Homo sapiens: one gene and its partners. The protein of the gene in region 2 purifies or fractionates together with the protein of the main gene of each other region. This does not show direct contact. Each region holds a gene or a part of one and is shown on either strand. Other genes may lie near its edges.

Region 1 (5,062 bases), on a different chromosome or scaffold from region 2:
CCCGAAATGATTGAAGGTCGGATGCATGATGAGAAGGTGGATCTCTGGAGCCTTGGAGTTCTTTGCTGTGAATTTTTAGTTGGGAAGCCTCCTTTTGAGGCAAATACATACCAAGAGACCTACAAAAGAATATCACGGGTTGAGAATTCACATTCCCTGACTTTGTAACAGAGGGAGCCAGGGACCTCATTTCAAGACTGTTGAAGCATGTTCCCAGCCAGAGGCCAATGCTCAGAGAAGTACTTGAATACCCCTGGATCACAGCAAATTCATCAAAACCATCAAATTGCCAAAACAAAGAATCAACTAGCAAGTATTCTTAGGAATCGTGCAGGGGGAGAAATCCTTGAGCCAGGGCTGCTGTATAACCTCTCAGGAACATGCTACCAAAATTTATTTTACCATTGACTGCTGCCCTCAATCTAGAACACTAAAAGAAATATTTGTTTTACTGAGCAGGTGTGCCTTAACCTCCCTACTCAGAAAGCTCCACATCAATAAACATGACACTCTGAAGTGAAAGTAGCCACGAGAATTGTGCTACTTATACTGGTTCATAATCTGGAGGCAAGGTTCGACTGCAGCCACCCCATCAGTCTGTGCCAGGCATGGTGTCCTCCCAGGAGGCAAATCCAGAGTCTGGCTATGGGGAAAGTGACCACTTTGTGCTGACTCGATCGGTTAAGGAGCTGTCCAATAACCTTCCAAGTACCTGAGTGAGTGTGTAACTTATTGGGTTGGCCAAGCCTGGTAAAGCTGTTGGACTGAGTACGTGATTCTTTTTAAGTAGGAAAATAAAGATATTTGTACAGAAAAAAAAGTACTTTTATTTTACTGTGGACAGCTGCTAGAGATATAGTGATACCACTCTCTTCTATATTTGAATTATCAAAGTATGACTTTATGTTACTTTGTATATTTAATTACAAAAGAAGACTGTCCTCTGTAGCTTTAAAAGATGCTGAACCCTACCCTTTCCCAATGTTTACATTAATGACAACTGTTAAATTTTGTTTTTATAAAGTAAATACTATCTACTTAAGACATGAAGTCTGGTCTTACTGCTTTGTGGCTTTTTTGTTTGTTTTGTTTTTGTTTTTTAGAGACAGGGCCTCACTCTGTCACCCAGGCCAGAGTGCAGTGGCATGATCATAGCTCACTGCAGCCTTAAACTCCTGGATTCAAGGGATCCTCCCACCTCAGTCTCCTGTGTTGCTAGGACTACAAGTATGCAGCACCATGCCCAGATAATTTTTTTGGTTTTTGTTGAGATAGGGTCTTGCTGTGTTGCCCAAGCAGGTCTTGAACTCCTGGGCTTAAGTGATCCTCCCACCTGGACTCTCAAAGTGCTAGAATTATAGGCATGAGCCACTCTCCCTGGTTTATTACTTTGAAGTTGCAGGGATGGGTGGAGTATAGGTCCCCACTTTATGGGTCCCCATTTAACCTATAGTGACATAATTTCCAATGCCTAGACCAGAACTTTCTGAAATTTACAGTTGGGTTGGGCAAAAATATAAATAAATATATAAATAAATAAATACATGAATAGAGAGGGAGAGCCAGAATAGTTGGAGATAATTTGGGTATTATAATATTGTGGATTTCTTGATTTACCTAATAGTAAAATAATTTCTTATTGACATACTAAAAATGTGGAATAGTTTTCCTTCTTGCCTCTTTTACCAACCAGAATATAAAGCATGTAGGGAATTATGTTGAAATAATCAATTCATGTTTTTAAGCAATCTCTGAGAAAAATGTGCTTTATTTAGGATAACCTAAAATCATAGAATCACTTTGCATAATGGGCTATCACAAATGATATAAAATACTCTATTTTTTATATGTAGTAAAATATTTTCTCTAGTTTGAGATCATACTAGGAGAGAAAATAATCTGAAAATAGAACATTTATAGAGATTTCAGAAAATATATAGAGTTACTGGGTTTCTTTAAAATTGGAAGAGGATCATACAGATAAAATTTTACCAGTGAGGAAATTGAGATTTGAGTGTTCTTCAGTTTCTTCATTCAGGTAGTATTTATTGAGCATCTACTATGTTCTAAGCACAAAATGAGTTTAAAGATAAATAAAATAAGTCCCTCAAGCAATTTTCAGCTAATAAAAGAAGACACGTATGTGAAACGATTGTTAGAGGTGTTATGCTATGATATGGCACATGATGGGAGAGAATGAAGGAGTGTTGGTCTAGTCTATGCAGGAAACCCAGAAAGTCTTCATATAGGAGGTGATATTTACACATTAATAGTTTAAAGATGTCCATCAGATGGAGAGAAAATAGACAACAGATGTGAAACAGTATGGGATTCAGAAAGCTGCAAATAGTAAATTGTGGTGGGAGGGTGGGATGTGTTCAGAGGTGAAATTGAAGAGGTTGGTGAAGGAGTTTAGATTTTATTCAGTAGCAGGGTCTTTAGATTGAAGTAAGAGTACCTTGGGATCATGGAAATTTATAAAAGGTTGCTTGGGAACAGATGATTTTAAGTAAATCATTTTCCACATGTACCTGTGAAAGTGCCTACTTTCTCACCCTGCCTTCTCCCACTTTATCTCTGACACGTTTGTAGTCTTATTATAGTAAGTTGCTTCAAGGTGTAAAAAAAACCTCCCCTTTAATCAAAGTGTTGTAAATTCCTCCATTCGTTTTATTATTAGTTTTCCAAATTTTACTTTTTGTTTAATTATCAAGATTTATGATATATTTATGTTGTTTTCCTCACTTATTTACATAAAATAATTGTAATAACTCAAGCAAGAAGAAAAATGTTAATACTTAAGAGTCTTATCACAGGAAAATGTTTTCTTAATTCATATCCTTTTTTGCAGAGAGAGTTTTGTACTGATAATAATAAAAATCTGTGTTTATTAGAATAGCATTCTGTGGAGGAAGTAGAATAGAAATAAGTATTCAAGGAGAATAAAGGACTTGTAAAAACTGTTGAGAAGGTCAGCATTTTTTTTTAATGGATGTCGGTGGGTATCATTTCCCTATAGTGTTTAGAATCCACTAAGTTTTAAAAAGTAATAATAGTTTTATGTTTAAATGTACATGTTTATAGTATAACAGAAATTACATATTTTTTGCAAGAGATACATACTAAAAAATTCTTTTGGGGCATATATGAACAAAAAATTTGAAGGTCATTCTCCTGTAAGACTCAGTGATTCCCAGTCTTGTCTTTTCTTTTTTTTGTTGGCATAATAGCGTACATAAGAAAAATGAGATATGGACCCCAAACAGCTAAAACAATTTTGGAAAAGAAGAAACAAGTTAGAAGATTCACACTTTCTGATTTCAAAGCATATTGCAAAGCTGTAATAACCCAAACTGTATGATACTGGCATAAAGACAAACAAACCAATGGAATGGAATAGATAGCTGATAAGTAAACCCTCACATACATGGTCAAGATGATCTTCAGCAAGTGTGCCAAGAGCATTCTTTGGGGGAAAAGACAGCTTCTTGAATATATGATGTTAGAGGAAATGGCTATCCATATGCAAAAGAATGAAATTGAATCCTTATCTTATACCATATACAAAAATTAAATAGATTAAAGACCTAAATGCAGCACCTAACACTGTAAAACTTTAGAATAAAACATAGGAGAAAAGCTTCATGACATTGGACTTGCATGCTTTTGGATATGACACCAAAAGCATAGGCAGCAGAAGCAAAAGTGGACAAATGGGGCTACACTAAGCTTAAAAACTTTGTGCATCAAAGGACACAATCAACAGTGTGAAAAGGCAGTTTTCAAAATGGGAGAAAATATTTGCAAATCATGTATCTGATATGGGATTAATATCCAGAATATATAAAGAATTCCTGCAACTCAATAACAACAACAAAAAATCAACCCTATTTAAAATGAGCAAAGGACTTAAGTAGACATTTCTTCAAGGATGATATACAGATGACCAAAAAGAACATGAAAAGATGCTTAACATCACTAATCATCAGAGTGATGCAAACCAAAGCATAATGAAATGTTACACCTATTAGAAATGGCTACTATAAAAAAAAAAAAGTATCAGGATATGGTGAGGATGTGGAGAATTATAAACTTTTGTGCATTGTTGGTGGGATGATAAGATGGTACAGCCATTAAGGAAAAAATAAGAGTTCCTCAAAAAATTTTAAAAAAATTATATGATCCAGCAATATCACTTCAAGGTGTATATACAGCAGAATTGAAAGCAGGGTCTTGAAGAGATGTTTGCACACCCATGTTCATAGACAGTTCACAGTAGCCAAGAGGTGGAAACAACCCAAATGCCCATCGATGGATGAATGGATAAACAAAATGTGGTATTATACACACAATGGAATACTGTTTAGCCATTAAAATCAAAGAAATGTCACATGCTATAACATGAATGAACCTTGTTAAATTATGCTAAGTGAAATATTCCAGTCACAAAAAGACAACTACTATATGATTCCACTTACATGAGGAAGCTAAAGTAGTCATTTATAGAAACAAAAAATAGAATGGCGGTTACCAGAGGCTGAGGAAAGGGAGAACGGGAATTGTTTAATGATACAGAGTTTCAGATTTGCAAGATGAAGTTCTGGAGATCTTTTTTTTTCACAACAGTGTGAGTACACTTAACACTACTGAACTGTCCACTTAGAAATGGTTAAGTTGATAAATTTTATGTTTTTTTGTTTGTTTGTTTGTTTGTTTGTTTTTTCTTGAGACAGAGTCTTGCTCTGTCGCCCAGGCTGGAGTGCAGTGGTGCCATCTTGGCTTACTGCAAGCTCCACCTCCCGGGTTCACACCATTCTCCTCCCTCAGCCTCTCGAGTAGCTGGGACTACAGGTGCCTGCCACCATGCCTGGCTAATTTTTTTTTTTTTTTTTTGTATTTTTAGTAGAGATGGGGTTTCACTGTGTTAGCCAGGATGGTCTCGATCTCCTGACCTCGTGATCTGCCCGCCTTGGCCTCCCAAAGTGCTGGGATTACAGGTGTGAGCCACCGCGCCTGGCCTGTGTGTTTTTTTTAACCAAAATACAAAATGTCAATCAATTAG
Region 2 (5,591 bases):
TTATGAGGTGAGGAGAGAGGAGTAGAACCCAGTTTAGAAGGCCTCTCTGAGGAGGCCTGAAGCTGAGATCCCTGAAGGATGAGAGGTCAAGCCCTCCAGGCAGAGGGAACAACATGGTCAAAGACTCTTGAAATGGGAGGGAACACGATGTTTTCAAATAACTAACAGGAAAGAGGAAAGCGGTGGAGCAGAGCCCAGAGCAAGTAGGACAGTGGTTCCAGAAAAGATTGGAGAGGGAGGGGCAGGACCACGCTGGGTCTTACAGACTGAGGCAAGGAATTCGTTATAAGTGAACCTCTAATGCCTTCTGCTCTCTCTACCCAGTGCTGGGGAAGAAATGAGCTGGTTTGTTCTGCTAGTTCTGTCCTCCCATGATAGTCATGAAAGCTTGGGGGTTAAAGAAATCTGGCATGAGACAAACCACCATAAAAAAATTATCAGCTTCAGCTTCTTTTTAAGTGAGTGACCTCTAAACTCATCTGACCCAGAGACTATGGACCAGGTGGGTAATGCAAAGGTCTTCATCCCCTCTCCCTGCACTGACCACAGGCCTACAGAAATAAATTCATTAATTCAGCAGTCATCACGTCTGCTACAGATGGACTCCTTAGTTCGTTTGCTTAGATGGTTCTTGAGGTGGAATACTGATTTACAAGTGCACCTCTAATGCCTTCTGCTCTCTCTACCCAGTGCTGGGGAAGAAATGAGCTGGTTTGTTCTGCTAGTTCTGTCCTCCCATGAGTCATGAAAGCTTGGGGGTTAAAGAAATTTGGCATGAGACAAACCACCAAAAAACATTATCAGCTTCAGCTTCTTTTTTGGTGAGTGACCTTCGAAGGAGCTGGCGCAATGGGGGTTGGCGCAATGGCTTCAAGGAGGCTGGCACAATGGCTCACGCCTTCAAGGGGGCTGGCGCAATGGCTCACGCCTGTAATCCCAGCACTTTTGGAGGCTGAGGCGGGTAGATCACTGAGGTCAGGAGTTCGAAACCAGCCTGGCCAACATGGTGAAACCCCGTCTCTACTAAAAATACAAAAAAAATTAGCCAGGCGTGGTGGCAGGCACCTGTAATCCCAGCTACTTGGAAGGCTGAAGCAGGAGAATCACTTGAACCCGGAAGGCAGAGGTTCCAGTGAGCAGACATTGTGCCACTGCACTCCAGCCTGTGTGACAGAGTGAGACTCCACCTCAAAACACAACAAAACAAACAAAAAAAACCTACAAGGTGAGGAAAATGTGCACAAATAACTGTAATAAAAGGAAGAGAGTGATAAAAGCTACAAAAAGGTTAACAGATAAGCATTTTCCAAGTAACAAAGCTTTTTCTACTACATGTTACAGGAGCCATTGAGTGCTCTTGCAAAGAAAACCAGCACTACAAAGTAGTAAATTATAAGTGATGCAAACACTACCTCCTGTAGAAACTCACAGGAAGGGAAGCCAGGTAGAGGCATGCTCCCATGCCAGCAGGTGGGGATACAAATCCTCCTTCTGCTACCTTTCCAGAAGAAAGTTAGCAATAGAGATCAAGAGCGTAAAAAAAAAAGAAAAGAAAAAAGAAAAAAAAAATCATTTCGACCCAATAATTCCACTTCTAAGAATGTATCCTTAGGAAAAAAAATTAGACATTTGTTCAAGGATTTCTGTTGAATTTTCCTTATAAGGTTATTATATTATCAAATAGAAACAACTGAAACAGCCAAGTTGGGTTACATTATGGGACATGCTCATGATGGCATCATATTTAAGTGACGTTTTTGAAGCACGGTAGTGACTTTTGGAAAAGGCTCAATACATCATTTTAATGAGACGTGCAAACTCATCATTACGATATACTAGGAGAAATGCTTTGACAGACGAAGTGGGAACAACTGGGAGAGTGAATGATGGAGTGTCAGGAACAGGGGCATATGAGTTGGGTCTTCCAGGTTGTGGAGGTGTTTCCGGGTGGAAGAGAAGGAGGGACCAAGCGGAGAGCCCTAAGTCCTGAAGACAACTGGGAAGGTAACACACCTCTTAAGAAGGGCATGCAGCAGCCATACCTCTCATCCGCCACGGTCAGCAAACCCATTGTGTTTCCTGGAGTGAGTTGGGCCATCAAGATGGGTGGTGCCCTCCTGCTGGGGAAGAGGGGCTCGGTGGGAATCCCTGCCCCAAGGCCTGGCAGCAACGCTCCTACGCTGCCTTGGGCCGCAGGCCTGCTAAGCCCTCCGCTCTCGCTTCCCTGCGCGCGAAATAAGTCCCAGGGCCAATGTGGCCTCCCCACCCAGTGCTTCCGGGGGCGCCAAAAAACGACCTGCCCAGACCCTCAGCGTCGACGCTGCGCACAAGCGCAGTCAACTGCTGGACCCGGCCGGTGTGAAGTTTCACACCCAAAAGGATGAAGGGCACCCACCTGGCTTAAGAGAACGACTCCCAGGTAAAGGGCCAGACCCAGGTGAGGAGTCGGCACAGGGCCAGAGGTGCCCTGCACACTCAGAGCTCTCCCTTTGAGCTCCTTGCCTTGCTCGGTTCTCCTGGGCCGCAGGCGTCTACCCTGCTCTCTGGGGTTCCGCTGCCTTTTCCTTGCCAGGTCTTTCCCACAGCAACGCCTTTTCTCTTCCTTCTCCAGCCTCTGAGTCCTCTTCCTCCTCTCCCCACTGTCCCACCTCTGAGGGACAGAAGTGGGGTGGTTTGAGAGCAGGAGACTGGAGGGAAGAAGCAAGTCCAGGCCTAGCTGCAAGCACTCCCCACCCCCGCCCCCGCCCCCGCCCCCGCCCCCGCCAGGCTCTAGGACACTTGACTTCTGTTAGGCCTCACACGGTTTGGTCTGAAGTGTTTCTCTCTTAATAGCTGTGGATCGGCGAGGCTCAATGGCTCACGCCTGTAATCTCAGGACTTTGGGAGGCCGAGGTGGGTGGATCACCTGAGGTCAGGAGTTCAAGAACAGCCTGACCAACATGGTGAAACTCTGTCTCTACTAAAAACACAGAAAATTAGCCGGGCGTGGTGGCGTGCACCTGTAATCTCAGCTACTCGGGAGGCTGAGGCAGGAAAATCGCTTGCACCCAGGAGGTGGAGGTTGCAGTGAGCCGAGATCGCGCCATTACACTTCAGCCTGGGCAACAAGAGCAAAAAACTCCGTCAAAAAAAAAAAAAAGAAGAAGAAGTTGTGGAGCTGTCTGATTCCTGATCCTGTCCGTTCAGGCTGGGGCCGCCCTGGTCTTTCAAACCCAGCAGTGAGCTTGGACAGACCCAGAGGTGTTTACTCCAGGTAATAGGAGCTCTAGACAAAATCAGGCTCTTTTCCTGGCTTAGACCTCTCCCTGCTTACAACACCTCTAGGATGTGGGATATCTAGAGGTCTGTGTAGCTGGAGGATGCTGGGAAATGTGAGGAGAAGATGTTTCCTCCTTAAAATTGGAATCTTTCTGATCACCTGAATTCTCCTGCTAGCCACAAATCCCACTCACTCTTATCTTATCCTTGTCCTTCTGTCATCGTTTACCTGCCTAATCCCTGAAGGTAGTGAGTTTCCTGTCACTGGAAGTGCACTTCTCGGTACCCTTACTTGTAGAAGTTCTCACAGATGCTGCTTCTCCTCTGGCTCAGATCATGTCTACTGTGAAGGAAGCAGCACACCGGCTGTCCAAAAGTGAGATGAGCCTCTATGCAGTGCTGGATCTTAAGAAGGGCGCCTCACCTGAAGACTTCAAAAAATCCTACAGGTTCAGACCTCAGCCCTTTATTGATCCTTGGAATTTCCCCCTTAAACCTTTTTCTTTCTGTATCTCTTTTGCTATCTGACTCTTTTTTTTTTTTTTTTTTTTTGAGAGGAAGTCTCGTCCTGTCACAGAGCAGAGACAGAGACTATTGAGAGTGCAGTGGCACGATCTTGGCTTACTGCAACCTCTGCCTCCCAGGTTCAAGCAATTCTCTCACCTCAGCCTCCTGAGAAGCTGGGACTACAGGCGTGCACCACCACGCCTGGCTAATTTTTGTATTTTTAGTAGAGACAGGGTTTCGCCATGTTGGCCAGGCTGGTCTCAAACTCCTGACCTCAGGTGATCTACCTGCCTCGGCCTCCCAAAGTGCTGGGATTACAGGTGTGAACCACTGTGCCTGGCCTACGACCCGTTTGTTTGTTTGTTTGTTTGTTTGTTTGTTTTGAGACAGTCTCGCTCTGTTGCCCAAGCTGTAGTGCAGTGGTGCAGTCTCGGCTCACTGCAACCTCCACCTTCCGGGTTGAAGTGATTCTCCTGCCTCAGCCTCCCGAGTAGCTGGGATTACAGGTGCCTGCCACTATGCCCAGCTAATCTTTTGTATTTTTGGTAGAGACAGGGTTTCACCATGTTGGCCAAGCTGGTCTCAAACTCCTGACCTCATGATCCGCCCACCTTGGCCTCCCAAAGCGCTGGGATTACAGGTGTGAGCCAGTGCTCCCAGCCCTATGACCCATTTTTAAGTTCCAACAAGCCCTCACTTTGGGGCCAAATGGCACCATCACCCTCTTCATTATAGTATGGGAAGGAGTTTAGACCTTGGATGCTTGCCTCCATCCTTTGTACCACATCTCATGCATTCCTTCTGCACTCTCTAGAGACTAATCCATGTCATTCATCGTAAGTCTCCTTCCCCAGCCATTCCGCATTGCTTCCCCACCCTCCTTTTGAGTATCACCTGGGTAGGAAACTGGCCTTGCGGTATCATCCCGACAAGAATCCAGGGAATGCTCAAGCAGCAGAAATATTCAAAGAGATCAACGCAGCTCATGCCATACTGAGCGACTCTAAGAAGCGGAAAATTTACGACCAGCATGGCTCATTGGGAATATATCTGTATGATCACTTTGGTGAAGAAGGCGTCAGATACTATTTTATTCTGAATAGTTGTTGGTTCAAGGTACACAATTCTCCAGGTCCTTTAAGAATAAGGAAAGAAGGGTGACCTTCCTTTCCTTATGACAAATGCTTCTGTTGTCTCATTTTCTGGGTGCCAGGAGGATTGAGGGAGGGAAGCTTGAGCAGTCATATAGAAAACTGCTGGACTGAGGCCATTCTCGCCTACCTTTTAGACACTTGTCATCCTGTGTACTCTGCTCACTTGTTGCTGTTTCTGTTGTTGCTGCTGTTTTTGCTGTGGAGCACTTAAACCACCACCTGAGCAGGATAGTGGGAGAAAATATCAGCAGAATGTCCAGAGTCAGCCTCCAAGGTCAGGTGAGAACTGCAAGCAGGGACTGTGAGGTAAGAAATGTCTGGATTGGGAATGAAAGAAATGATTGGGGTTGGGCACAATGGCTCATGCCTGTAATCCCAGCACTTTGGGAGGGTGAGGCGGGTGGATCACTTGAGGTCAGGAGTTGGAGACAAGCCTGGCCAACATGGTAAAACCCTGTCTCTACTAAAAATACAAAAATTAGCTGGGCATGGTGGCACCCACCTGTAGTCCCAGCTACTTGGGAGGCTGAGGAGGCAGAAGAATCGCTTGAACCCGGAAGGCAGAGGTTGCAGTGAGCTGAGATCGCGCCACTGCACTCCAGCCTGGGAGACAGAGCAAGACTCCATCTCAAAAAAAAAAAAAAAAAAAAAAAAAGAAAAGAAAAGAAAGAG
Region 3 (5,602 bases), on a different chromosome or scaffold from region 2:
AGACACAAACAGTAAATGCTTTAAGTTTTGTTGGCCAAAAAGTTTCTGTTAAAAAAAAAAATTAGCTCTAATGTCACAGCTCAAAAGTAGCCAGAGACAATATATAAATGAGTAAGCATTGGCTGTTTTCAAATAAAACTTTATTTACAGACACTGAAATGTAAATTTCACACCATTTTCACATCAATAGATATTCTTCTTTTGGTATTTTTTTTCCCAACCAGCTAAAAATGTAAAAAAATCGGCAGGCGCGGTGGCTCATGCCTGTAATCCCAGCACTTTGGGAAGCCAAGGTGGGCAGAGCACCTGAGGTCAGAAGTTCGAGAGCAGCCTGGCCAACATGGTGAAACCCTGTCTCCACAAAAAAACACAAAAACTAGCTGGGTATAGTAGTACACAGCTGTAATGCCAGCTACTCAGAAGGCTGAGGCAGGAGAATCACTTCAACCCGGGAGGCGGAGGTTGTAGTGAGTCGAAATTGTACCACTGCACTCCAGCGTGGGCAACAGAGTTAGATTCCAAAATAAATAAAAGAAAGGGAAGGGAAGGAAAGGGAGGGAGGGAACAAGGGGAGGGAGGGAGGAACCATTTTTAGCTCATAGACTATATCTGGCCCACAGATTGTAGTACTCCTCGCTCTCTTTTAGATCATACTCAAAAAGGTGCAGAGCTGGGACTCCAACCTAGGTAAGACCTGAAACACAAGGTCCCAGGCAGAGAGACGACCAAGTGCAAAGACCCTTAGGTTGGAATGAGCTTGTGCTCCAAGGATGGAAAGACCCACGCGGCTGAACAGCAATGAGCAAGGGGGAACAAAGCAGGGCATGGGAGCCAAGTTCAGGGGACTTCATAAACCTGAATACAAGGTTTAGGATATTCCAAGTTCAGCTGAGAGCCCTCTGGAAGCACTGAGTGGCCTTGATATTTCCATTTTCAGTCTATGTGTATATATATATATATACACACACACACATATATATGCACACGTGTATGTATATATCTGTGTGTATATATATAGATAAAAACAAAGTATATATGTGTATATATATGGGGGAGGTTCTTGCTGTGTCCCTAGGATGGTGGCAGTGGCACTGTCACAGCTCACTGCAGCCTCAACCTCCTGGGCTCAAGTGATCCTCCTGCCTCAGCCTCCCAAGTAGCTGGGACCACAGGCTTGCACCACCACATCCGGGTAATTTTTGTGTTTTTGTAGAGATGGGGTCTTGCTCTGTTGCCTAGGCTGGTTTTGAACTGAGCTCAAGCGATCCTCCCACCTTGGCCTCCCGCAGTGCTGGGATTCCAGGGGTGAGCTACCGCGTCTGGCTGATTATATTTTTCAAAGACTCCTCAGCCTGCGGCCATGTGCAGAACCAAGCCTGGGGCTTCAAAAGAATGCAGCAAAGGATAGCAGAGAGGCCGCTGTCCAAGTCTTCCATGAGATAGATACGGACGATGTGGCCTAGGGTGGTGACAGCCTGGGGGTGACAATGGGTGGCTCTGGGCTGTATTTTGGAGGCAAGGCCAAGTCCGAAGGATTTGCTGAGAGATTCATAGCAGGTGAGTAGAGAACAACTCCAGGGTGTCCAGGACCCTCCCATGAGCCTTGTGAGTGAGGCTGATGGTCCCATTTTACAGATGGGTAACCTGGAGGCGCGCGGTTCCCCTCCCATGAGCTTGTGAAGTTGATTCTCGTAGCTCCGAGGGGTCGAGTCCCTCGCGCCGGCTCCCCCCGCCCCCAACGCCAGCACCTGGGTCCCAGGGCTGCGCCCCCTCCTAGAGCCTGACCACGACCCCCGCCCCCGCCGATGAGCTCTGATTTACCCCCCAATCCCAAGCACCCCGCGCCCTCTCGCCACTTCCCCCGTGGTTTCAGGAAAGCGTTTGCCGAAGGTACCGGCTCCTAAGGCGGGTAAACTGAGGTAGGAGGCAACGCGTCTCCCGCCCGCGCGTGTGGGAAGCCCCCGCAGGCCCGGCGATTTACCTGGAGGAAGGCCTCGGCTGCGGCGCCCTGAACTGCTCACTGTCCCACCGCGGGGGAACCCCGGAAAACGAGTGGGAAAACGAGTGCTTCAAGACCCGCCTCGGGCCGCGCGGTGCCGCCTCACTAAACCTTAGTCGCTGCCACTGCGCATGCGCCCTTCCCGGCCCTTTCCCCGCCCTCTCAGTCGGCGGGAAAAGGAGGCGGGAGATGGCTCGTGCGCAGGTGCGTGCTAGGAGCGCGGCTCGTCAGGGCAGGCTGCTCTGCAGGGCAGGCGATCCGGGGCTCGCCTCCGCGCGGCATTCAGCGCGCAGGCGCGAGCTGGCCGCCTCACACGGAGTCGGCTTGTTAAGTGCGCACGCGCGGGAGTTTCTGGCAGAAAGCAGGCGAGCCTGGGCCGGCGCGGGGCCTTGTGGGAGGGCTTAAGGAAGTAAAATGGCGGACCTGGCGAACGAAGGTAGGGGAGGCGCCGTTGGGGACCGGCTGGCGGCCGGGGAACGGGCGGCGGGAGGACTAGGGGCCACAAGCCCTTGGGGGGAGCACCGCAGAGTGCAAGGGTTTCGTCCGCTCCAGGCTAGCGCCGTGGCGGGCCTTGCAGCCGCCCCCTATTGCGTCCCCTCAGGCCGGGCTCACCGGCCCGGCCCATCACTCCCGGCAACCCCAGCCACTGCAGCCGTCTGGCTAGAGGAGCCGGGTGGCCATCGGGATCGCAGCCCTAAGGCCCCTCTGCGTCGCAGCCAAGCTCGGGGCTGAAGGGGGCGGGAGGCGCGGCCCCAGTGCTTCGGCCACGGATGTAAATAGACCTTAGGGCCTGGTTGTGGCCCGGAGCGCGCCACGCTCCCTCCCCGCCCCCTCGTCCTCCGCCACCCGGCATCTCCCCTTCCCCGGCCTGGCTGCCTATCTCCTAAGCCCGTGAGGCCCTCGTCCTCCGCGGGCCAGCCGCACACCGCGGACGGAGGAAGCCCAGGCCGTTTTCACCCCGTCCCCGCCCCGAACTTCGGCCCCCACTTCCCGCCAGTTCCCCCCGGATCCTTCGGGGCGCTTCGTCTCCCCCTCATTTAGGCCCCGCCGCAGGATCTGGGCCGCCGAAAACCCTGGCTGCTCTTTGGCCCTTTTTGCTGCACTTCCAGACAAGAGACCGTGCGAGTCCCTCCTCTGTGGAGCGCTGACAGCCCACCTGAGTGTTTTTGACAAGGTTACACTTCCAGATCCCCCGAGAAGGCACCATAAGGCTGATGTCTGCTTCCATCCATAGTCGTGTTGCCATCGCTGTAGCTTCAAGACTTCTGAGGCCTATTTTTAGCTCCCCCCCTTTTCTAGTTGCACAAATGCAGGCAAGCTCTCTACCTGTCTGGCTCTGATTCCCCCATTCGGTGCTCCCTGTGACTGGAGGGTTTTCCCTACCGAATTGCAGTAATGAATGAATGATGATAGGAAGTGCTTGGTCTTGTGGAGCATTTAGGGTAGTTACCAGGTGTGGTGCAAAGTCTTGACATACTGTTTTCCCTGGTAGGAGGTATAGATACTGTTAGCCCCATTCACTTGATGAGGAGACTGAGTCAACGTGGTTAAGTCGCTTATCCAAGGCGTGTCACACAGCTGGGAAGGAGCAGGGATGTGAACCAAGATGGCCTGGCTTCAGATGCCAGACCACGGGTGCTCAGTCCCTGCAGATTCTGATTCTGTGTGGTGTTGGGCGGGCGCTGGGCATCTGTACAGGCAGCAGCACAGGTTCTCTCCCTGATTCTTGGCCATTTTATTCTATTTTATTTTTTGGGACGGAGTCTAGCTCTGTAGCCAGGCTGGAGTGCAGTGGCGCCATCTCGGCTCACTGCAATCTCCGCCTCCCGGGTTCAGGTGATTCTCCTGCCTCAGCCTCCCGAGTAGCTGGGATTACAGGCGCGCACCACCACACCCAGCTAATTTTTGTGTTTTTAGTACAGACGGGGTTTCACCATGTTGGCCAGGATGGTCTCCATCTCCTGACCTCGTGATCTGCCCGCCTCGGCCTCCCAAAGTGCTGGGATTACAGGCGTGAGCCACCGCACCCGGCTGCTACATCTCTTTTTTTAAGATAAAGGAGCCCATGGAGGGTTGCAGCATTCCAACTCATGAGATCTAGTTACAGAGGGACTGGGTAAGTGGGAATCAGTATGACATATTTTATGTATTTACATCCTGAGCCCACATAGCTTCTTGAACTCAGGACTCATGTCCAGCATCACATTTCGACATCTCCATTTGGATGTGTCATAGGTAAGTCTAGAGCGTTTCCAAAACAAAATCCTTATCTCCCCCACTACACCTGCCCATCCCATGGTCTTTCACCCATTGTAGTTAGTTAGGCAGGTCCATTCTTTGAATTCTTCTGGCCCCAAACCTTGAAGTCACCCCTGGTTTCCCTCTTTCTCATACTGCACAGCAAATACTATCATTTCTACCTTAAAATTATTCCCAAAGGGGGACCACCACTTCTCCCCACCAACACCGTCAATGCTTAGCCCCCGTTCCCTCCACCCTTACCCATCTGAGAACTTCTCAGCCCATAGTGGGCCCCAATATGTCCCTGTCCTTCTCTCTCGCCACTCTCTGCTGCCTTGCTCTGTGCTAACTACTCTGGCTTTTTCAGTTTTCCTTGAATGTTGCATACACTCCCCGCTTTTAGCCTTTTCTCCTGCTGATTCCTCTAACTGAAACAGTTTTCCCCCAGATACCCCCATGGCTCACTTCTTCTGGTTTTTACTCATATATGTTACTTTATTAATGAGAGCTTCTCTGGCCACCTATTTCAAATTAAATCCATGTTCTCTATTCCGTTCACCCTGCTTGATTTTCCTGTATAGCTCTTAACAATCCGGCATGCTAGATATTACATGCATGTTTGCCCCATGTAAGCTCCATGAGGTCAGGGATTTTTATGTTATGATCACTGATTGCCCCCTTGCATCTAGAACGGTGCCTGGCACAGAGTAGGTACACAGGAAATATTGGTTGAATGAATGAATGCATGAATGAATGAATTCACCAGTGAGGACCCTGTTGTGAGGAATACATTTGAGCACAAAGGGGAAATTATGGCTTGCCCTTTTCCAGGGGATACTGTTTCTAGCATATGCTGTCCACATGAGCTATTGGTTGTAAATGGGATAGTTGAACTGGTAAGGGCCAAAGAGAGAAATGGAATGTTTTGAACTTCACTTTTTTTCCCTAGTAAGTGCCACACTCACCTAGCACGTTGTCCCTGACGCTAGTTCTGGGATAACTGTCCTCAGGAAATCAAATCTTGGTGGACTTTGTGCCTCATATATCCCTGCCGTCCTTCAATCAGTCATTGTGTGTTTCTTGAACACTCCATTTCTGGTTTTGGCTTGTACAGCCTGCCAGGATGTTTAATTTGTTATTCACTGTGTAAAGTGGGGCCTCCTTGCCTGTGCCTTTTGAAGCTTTAGGGGCTGCCCCATGGTCACGTGTTTGTTCTTGCTGTTTAAGCTCTAGTCAAATGCCCTCTTGGCTTCTGCCTTTCCAGACTGAGATCATAAGTTGCTCCACCCTCACACCCAGTCCCTCCTCCATCCATTTGCCATCTCTCTTCTCTGGGCCAGTCCCACCTCTGTGTCAGGCTGA
Region 4 (5,062 bases), on a different chromosome or scaffold from region 2:
GCTCATTCCTAACTTCCGAAGGTTACCGGTGATCATTCCTTGGAATTCCTTGCCTTATAGAGGCCTCACTCCAGTCTGCTGTCATCTGCACATGGCATTCTCCCCTGTGAGTCTCTGTCTTCATGTGGTCTCGTTATAGGACCATGGTCCAGTAAGACCTCATCTTATTATAGTTGAGAGGACCCTATTTCAAATATGGTCAGTCTAAGGTTCTGGATGGACATTGATTTGGGGGGGACTTCAACCCGGTACACTAGTTAAGAAGAATTTCCAAATAAACCTAACCATTGTGCAATTTCTTTTTCAAGAGCACTGGAATTAAGTTGCCTTCATCAGTGTTTGCTTCAGAGTTTGAGGAAGATGTTGGATTGTTAAATAAAGCAGCTCCAGTTTCAGGTATTTTTAATTGCTTTATCTTTTCATATGGATAAATGTATTTTGCAAAACATAAAGAAATGATGTAGGATTTTTCTATCCCCAGTAAAGTATTGAAACAATTGAGATATGTCTGGAATTCAGATCAGGGATTATTAGGAAGGGATGAATGTGATCTTTGTATTTTTGTATTCCTACCATCAAATCTTTATATCTTTTGAGTTCCTGTTTGGAGAGGAAAGTGGGGAAACTATTCTTGGTAATCTAGTTAGGGGAATTGTAACCTTCACATAACCTCTTGCAAAGATAGTGGTATTAATTATTCATTACTTGTAGTGTAATTTTGAAAAATAATCTGTTTTTCAGAATTTCTCCCCAGAGCATACAGGTATTTTTATGGAAGTTCATTTTGCCATCTACACATATATTGGGGGAAATTTTTTATTTTTAATTTGTAGTACCAACACTGTATTTCAGAACAAACACAAAAGTCTACAGAAGTGGTGTTGGTATTTTCTCCCAAGTTGCCTTAATTATTAACTAACACCTGTCCTGTGGCATTCATTAATTAATTTATTGTACAGATTTTTGAGTTGCCACTGTCTGTGTGGCAGGGCCTTGGGTTAAAACAGAATAAAGCATAGTCTCTGACCCAAGAATTTACCTCATTTGGGAAAAATAAACAATAAATGATAAATTACAGTATAGATGGATATTAATAGTGGGGTGAGTAGCACCAAACCCAGCATCACAGGGTTGGGCAAGGCTTTCTAAAGAAGGTGATATCTAGTTTGTTTCTTAAGTAAAAGTTAGGTAGGTGGAAGAAGGAGGGGGAGGGGTGGGGACCAGAGGATGTTCCAGACAGAGGACTGTATGTCCTAAGGCAAGAGAACGTGAATATAGGTAACTATACACATTTTAGCCTGCCCAGAAGGAAGGGTATGGATTAAAAAGAAATGAGGCTGGAGGGTTAAGTAATGGCCATGTAGCAGAGGGTGTTGGAGGCCATGTCAGATGATAAATTTGGAGTTGAAAGTTTTTCATGAACTTGAGTTTTTTGTTTTCATTTTCTGCTCCTTGTGGAGCAGGGCTAAGTCCTAAGCAGTGTGCCCAGAGTCAGCCTAGTATATTTATAGATGGAAGAACATATCTGAAGAAACAGGTAGGTATTTATTAAAATCGCAAAGTCAGAAAATACTGAAAGTATAACAGTCTAAAAATTGTTCGAGTTATTTTTAACAGGTGAATTTAAAGGCCAGTTTCTTCTTGCAGACAAAAGCTTTGAATTATGCTAGACAAAGTTAAACATTATAGATGTTTAATGGAACATTATTTTCACCAGTGGATATTAAAAGGAGAAGCATCATTTCTTTTTTCATTTTTTTTTTTAAATTATACTTTAAGTCCTGGGATATATATGCAGAATGTGCAGGTTTGTTATGTAGGTATACACGTCATGGTGGTTTGCTGCACCCATCAACCCATCATCTACATTAGGCATTTCTCCTAATGCTATCCCTCCCCTAGGCCCCCATCCCCCAACAGGCCCCAGTGTGTGATGTTCCCCTCCCTGTGTCCATATGTTCTCATTGTTCAACTCCCACTTATGAGTGAGAACATGCGGTGTTTGGTTTTCTGTTCCTGTGTTAGTTTGCTGAGAGTGATGGTTTCCAGCTTCATCCATGTCCCTGCAGAGGACATGAACGTGTCCTTTTTTATGGCTGCATAGTATTCCATGGTGTATATGTGCCACATTTTCTTTATCCAGTCTGTCATTGATGGGCATTTAAGTTGGTTCCAAGTCTTTGCTATTGTGAACAGTGCTACAATAAACCTACGTGTGCATGTGTCTTTATAGTAGAATGATTTATTATCCTTTGGGTATGTACCCAGTAATGGGATTGCTGGGTCAAATGGTATTTCTGGTTCTAGATCCTTGAGGAATCGCCACACTGTCTTCCACAATGGTTGAACTAATTTACACTCCCAACAACAACATAAAAGCGTTCCTATTTCTCCACATCCTCTCCAGAATCTGTTGTTTCCTGACTTTTTAATGATTGCCATTCTAACTGGCGTGAGATAGTTTCTCATTGTGGTTTTAATTTGCATTTCTATAATGACCAGTGATGATGAGCTTTTTTTCATGTTTGTTGGCTGCATAAATGTCTTCATTTGAGAAATATCTGTTCCTATCTTTTGCCCACTTTTCAATGGGGTTGTTTGTTTTTTTCTTGTAAATTTAAGTTCTTTGTAGATTCTGGATATTAGCCCTTTGTCAGATGGATTGATTGCAAAAATTTTCTCCCATTGTGTGGGTTGCCTGTTGACTCTGATGATAGTTTCTTTTGCTCTGCAGAAGCTCTTTAATTTAATTAGATCCCATTTGTCAATTTTGGCTTTTGTTGACATTGCTTTTGATGTTTTAGTCAAGAAGTCTTTGCCCATGCCTATATCCTGAATGGTATTGCTTAGGTTTTCTTCTAGAGTTTTTATGGTTTTAGGTCTTACGTTGAAGTCTTTAATCCATCTTGAGTTAATTTTTGTATAAGGTGTAAAGAAGGGGTCCAATTTCAGTTTTCTGCATATGGCTAGCCAGTTTTCCCAATGCCATTTATTAAATACGGAATCCTTTCCCCATTGCTTGTTTTTGTTAGGATTGTCAAAGATCAGATGGCTGTAGATGTGTGGTGTTATTTCTGAGGCCTCTGTTTTGTTCCATTGGTCTATATATCTGTTTTGGTACCAGTACCATGCTGTTTTGATTACTGTAGCCATGTAGTATAGTTTGAAGTCAGGTAGTGTGATGCCTCCAGCTTTGTTCTTTCTGCTTAGGATTATCTTGTAAATTACTTTGGGCAGTATGGCCATTTTTATGATATTGATTCTTCCTATCCATGAGCATGGAATGTTTTTCCATTTGTTTGTGTCCCCTCTGATTTCTTTGAGCAGTGGTTTGTAGTTCTCCTTGAAGAGGTCCTTCACATCCCTTGTAAGTTGGATTCCTAGGTATTTTATTCTCTTTGTAGCAATTGTGAATGGGAGTTCCCTCACAATTTGGCTCTCTGTTTGTCTATTATTGGTATATAGGAATGCTTGTGATTTTTGCACATTGATTTTGTATCCTGAGACTTTGCTGAAGTTGCTTATCAGCTTAAGGAGATTTTGGGCTGAGATGATGGGGTTTTCTAAATAGACAGTGATGTTAATCTGCAAACAGAGACAATTTGACTTCCTCTCTTCCTATTGGAATACGCTTTATTTCTTTCTCTTGCCTGATTGCCCTGGCCAGAACTTCCAATACTGTGTTGAATAGGATTGGTGAGAGAGGGCATCCTTGTCTTGTGCCGGTTTTCAAAGGGAATGCTTCCAGCTTTTGCCCATTCAGTATGATATTGGCTGAGGGTTTGTCATAAATAGCTCTTATTATTTTGAGATATGTTCCATCAATACCTAGTTTATTGAGAGTTTTTAGCATGAAGGGGTGTTGAATTTTATCAAAGGCCTTTTCTGCATCTATTGAGATAATCATGTGGTTTTTGTCATTGGTTCTGTTTATGTAATGGATTACGTTGAACCAGCCTTGCATCCCAGGGATGAAGCCAACTTGATTGTGGTGAATAAGCTTTTTGATGTGCTGCTGGATTTGTTTTGCCAGTTTTTTATTGACGATTTTCGCATTGATGTTCATCAGGGATATTGGCCTGAAATTTTCTTTTTTTGTTGTGTCTCTGCCAGGTTTTGGTATCAGGATGATGCTGGCCTCATAAAATGAGTTAGAGAGGAGTCCCTCTTTTTCTATTGTTTGGAATAGTTTCAGAAGGAGTGGTATCAGCTCCTCTCTGTACCTCTGGTAGAATTTGGCTGTGAATCTGTCTGGTCCTGGGCTTCTCTTTTGGTTGGTAGGCTATTGCTGCCTCTATTTCAGAACATGTTATTGGTCTATTCAGGGATTCCACTTCCTCCTGATTTAGCCTTGGGAGGGTGTATGTGTCCAGGAATTTATCCATTTCTTCTAGATTTTCTAGTTTATTTTCATAGAGGTGTTTATAGTATTCTCTGATGGTAATTTGTATTTCTGTGGGATCGGTGGTGATATCCCCTTTATCAATTTTTATTGTGTCTATTTGATTCTTCTCTCTTTTCTTCTTTATTAGTCTGGCTAGCAGTCTATCTATTTTGTTAATCTTTTCAAAAAACTAGCTCCTGGATTCATTGGTTTTTTTGAAGGGTTTTCGTGTCTCTATCTCCTTCAGTTCTGCTGTGTTTTAGTTATGTCTTGTCTTCTAGGTTTTGAATTTGTTTGCTCTTGTTTCTCTACTTCTTTTAATTGTGATGTTAGGGTGTCGATTTTAGATCTTTCCTGCTTTCTCCTGTGGGAATTTAGTGCTATAAATTTCCCCTTAAACACTGCTTTAGCTGTGTCCCAGAGATTCTGGTATGTTGTGTCTTTTTTCTCATTGGTTTCGAAGAACTTATTTATTTCTACCTTATTTTTGTTATTTACCCCGTAGGCATTCAGGAGCAGGTTGTTCAGTTTCCAAGTAGTTGTGCATTTTTGAGTGGATTTCTTAAACCTGAGTTCTAATTTGATTGCAGTGTGGTCTGAGAGACTGTTTGTTATGATTGCCATTCTTTTGCATTTGCTGAGGAGTGTTTTACTTCCAATTATGTGGTCAATTTTAGG

Evidence for each region.
Region 1: the proteins of DNAJC5G (region 2) and RAB3GAP2 purify together in Homo sapiens (affinity purification with mass spectrometry, with the first as the bait; one large-scale study listed by BioGRID). This does not show direct contact.
Region 3: the proteins of DNAJC5G (region 2) and RANBP3 purify together in Homo sapiens (affinity purification with mass spectrometry, with the first as the bait; one large-scale study listed by BioGRID). This does not show direct contact.
Region 4: the proteins of DNAJC5G (region 2) and LTV1 purify together in Homo sapiens (affinity purification with mass spectrometry, with the first as the bait; one large-scale study listed by BioGRID). This does not show direct contact.

What each region holds. Positions count from the first base shown.
Region 1 is NC_000001.11:220,261,965-220,267,026, reverse strand, and holds part of RAB3GAP2 (rab3 GTPase-activating protein non-catalytic subunit), read left to right. Parts: exon of another isoform or gene 1-848; intron 849-5,062. UniProt on the Homo sapiens protein: Regulatory subunit of the Rab3 GTPase-activating (Rab3GAP) complex composed of RAB3GAP1 and RAB3GAP2, which has GTPase-activating protein (GAP) activity towards various Rab3 subfamily members (RAB3A, RAB3B, RAB3C and RAB3D), RAB5A and RAB43, and guanine nucleotide exchange factor (GEF) activity towards RAB18.
Region 2 is NC_000002.12:27,273,135-27,278,725, forward strand, and holds the start of DNAJC5G (dnaJ homolog subfamily C member 5G), read left to right. Parts: upstream 1-2,298; 5' UTR 2,299-2,419; exon of another isoform or gene 2,420-2,683; intron 2,684-2,971; 5' UTR 2,972-3,253; intron 3,254-3,556; exon of another isoform or gene 3,557-3,591; 5' UTR 3,592-3,594; coding exon 3,595-3,707; intron 3,708-4,619; coding exon 4,620-4,881; intron 4,882-5,053; coding exon 5,054-5,198; intron 5,199-5,591.
Region 3 is NC_000019.10:5,974,894-5,980,495, reverse strand, and holds the start of RANBP3 (ran-binding protein 3), read left to right. Parts: upstream 1-2,355; 5' UTR 2,356-2,413; coding exon 2,414-2,435; exon of another isoform or gene 2,436-4,115; intron 4,116-5,602. UniProt on the Homo sapiens protein: Acts as a cofactor for XPO1/CRM1-mediated nuclear export, perhaps as export complex scaffolding protein. Bound to XPO1/CRM1, stabilizes the XPO1/CRM1-cargo interaction. In the absence of Ran-bound GTP prevents binding of XPO1/CRM1 to the nuclear pore complex.
Region 4 is NC_000006.12:143,849,823-143,854,884, forward strand, and holds part of LTV1 (protein LTV1 homolog), read left to right. Parts: intron 1-308; coding exon 309-396; intron 397-5,062. UniProt on the Homo sapiens protein: Essential for ribosome biogenesis.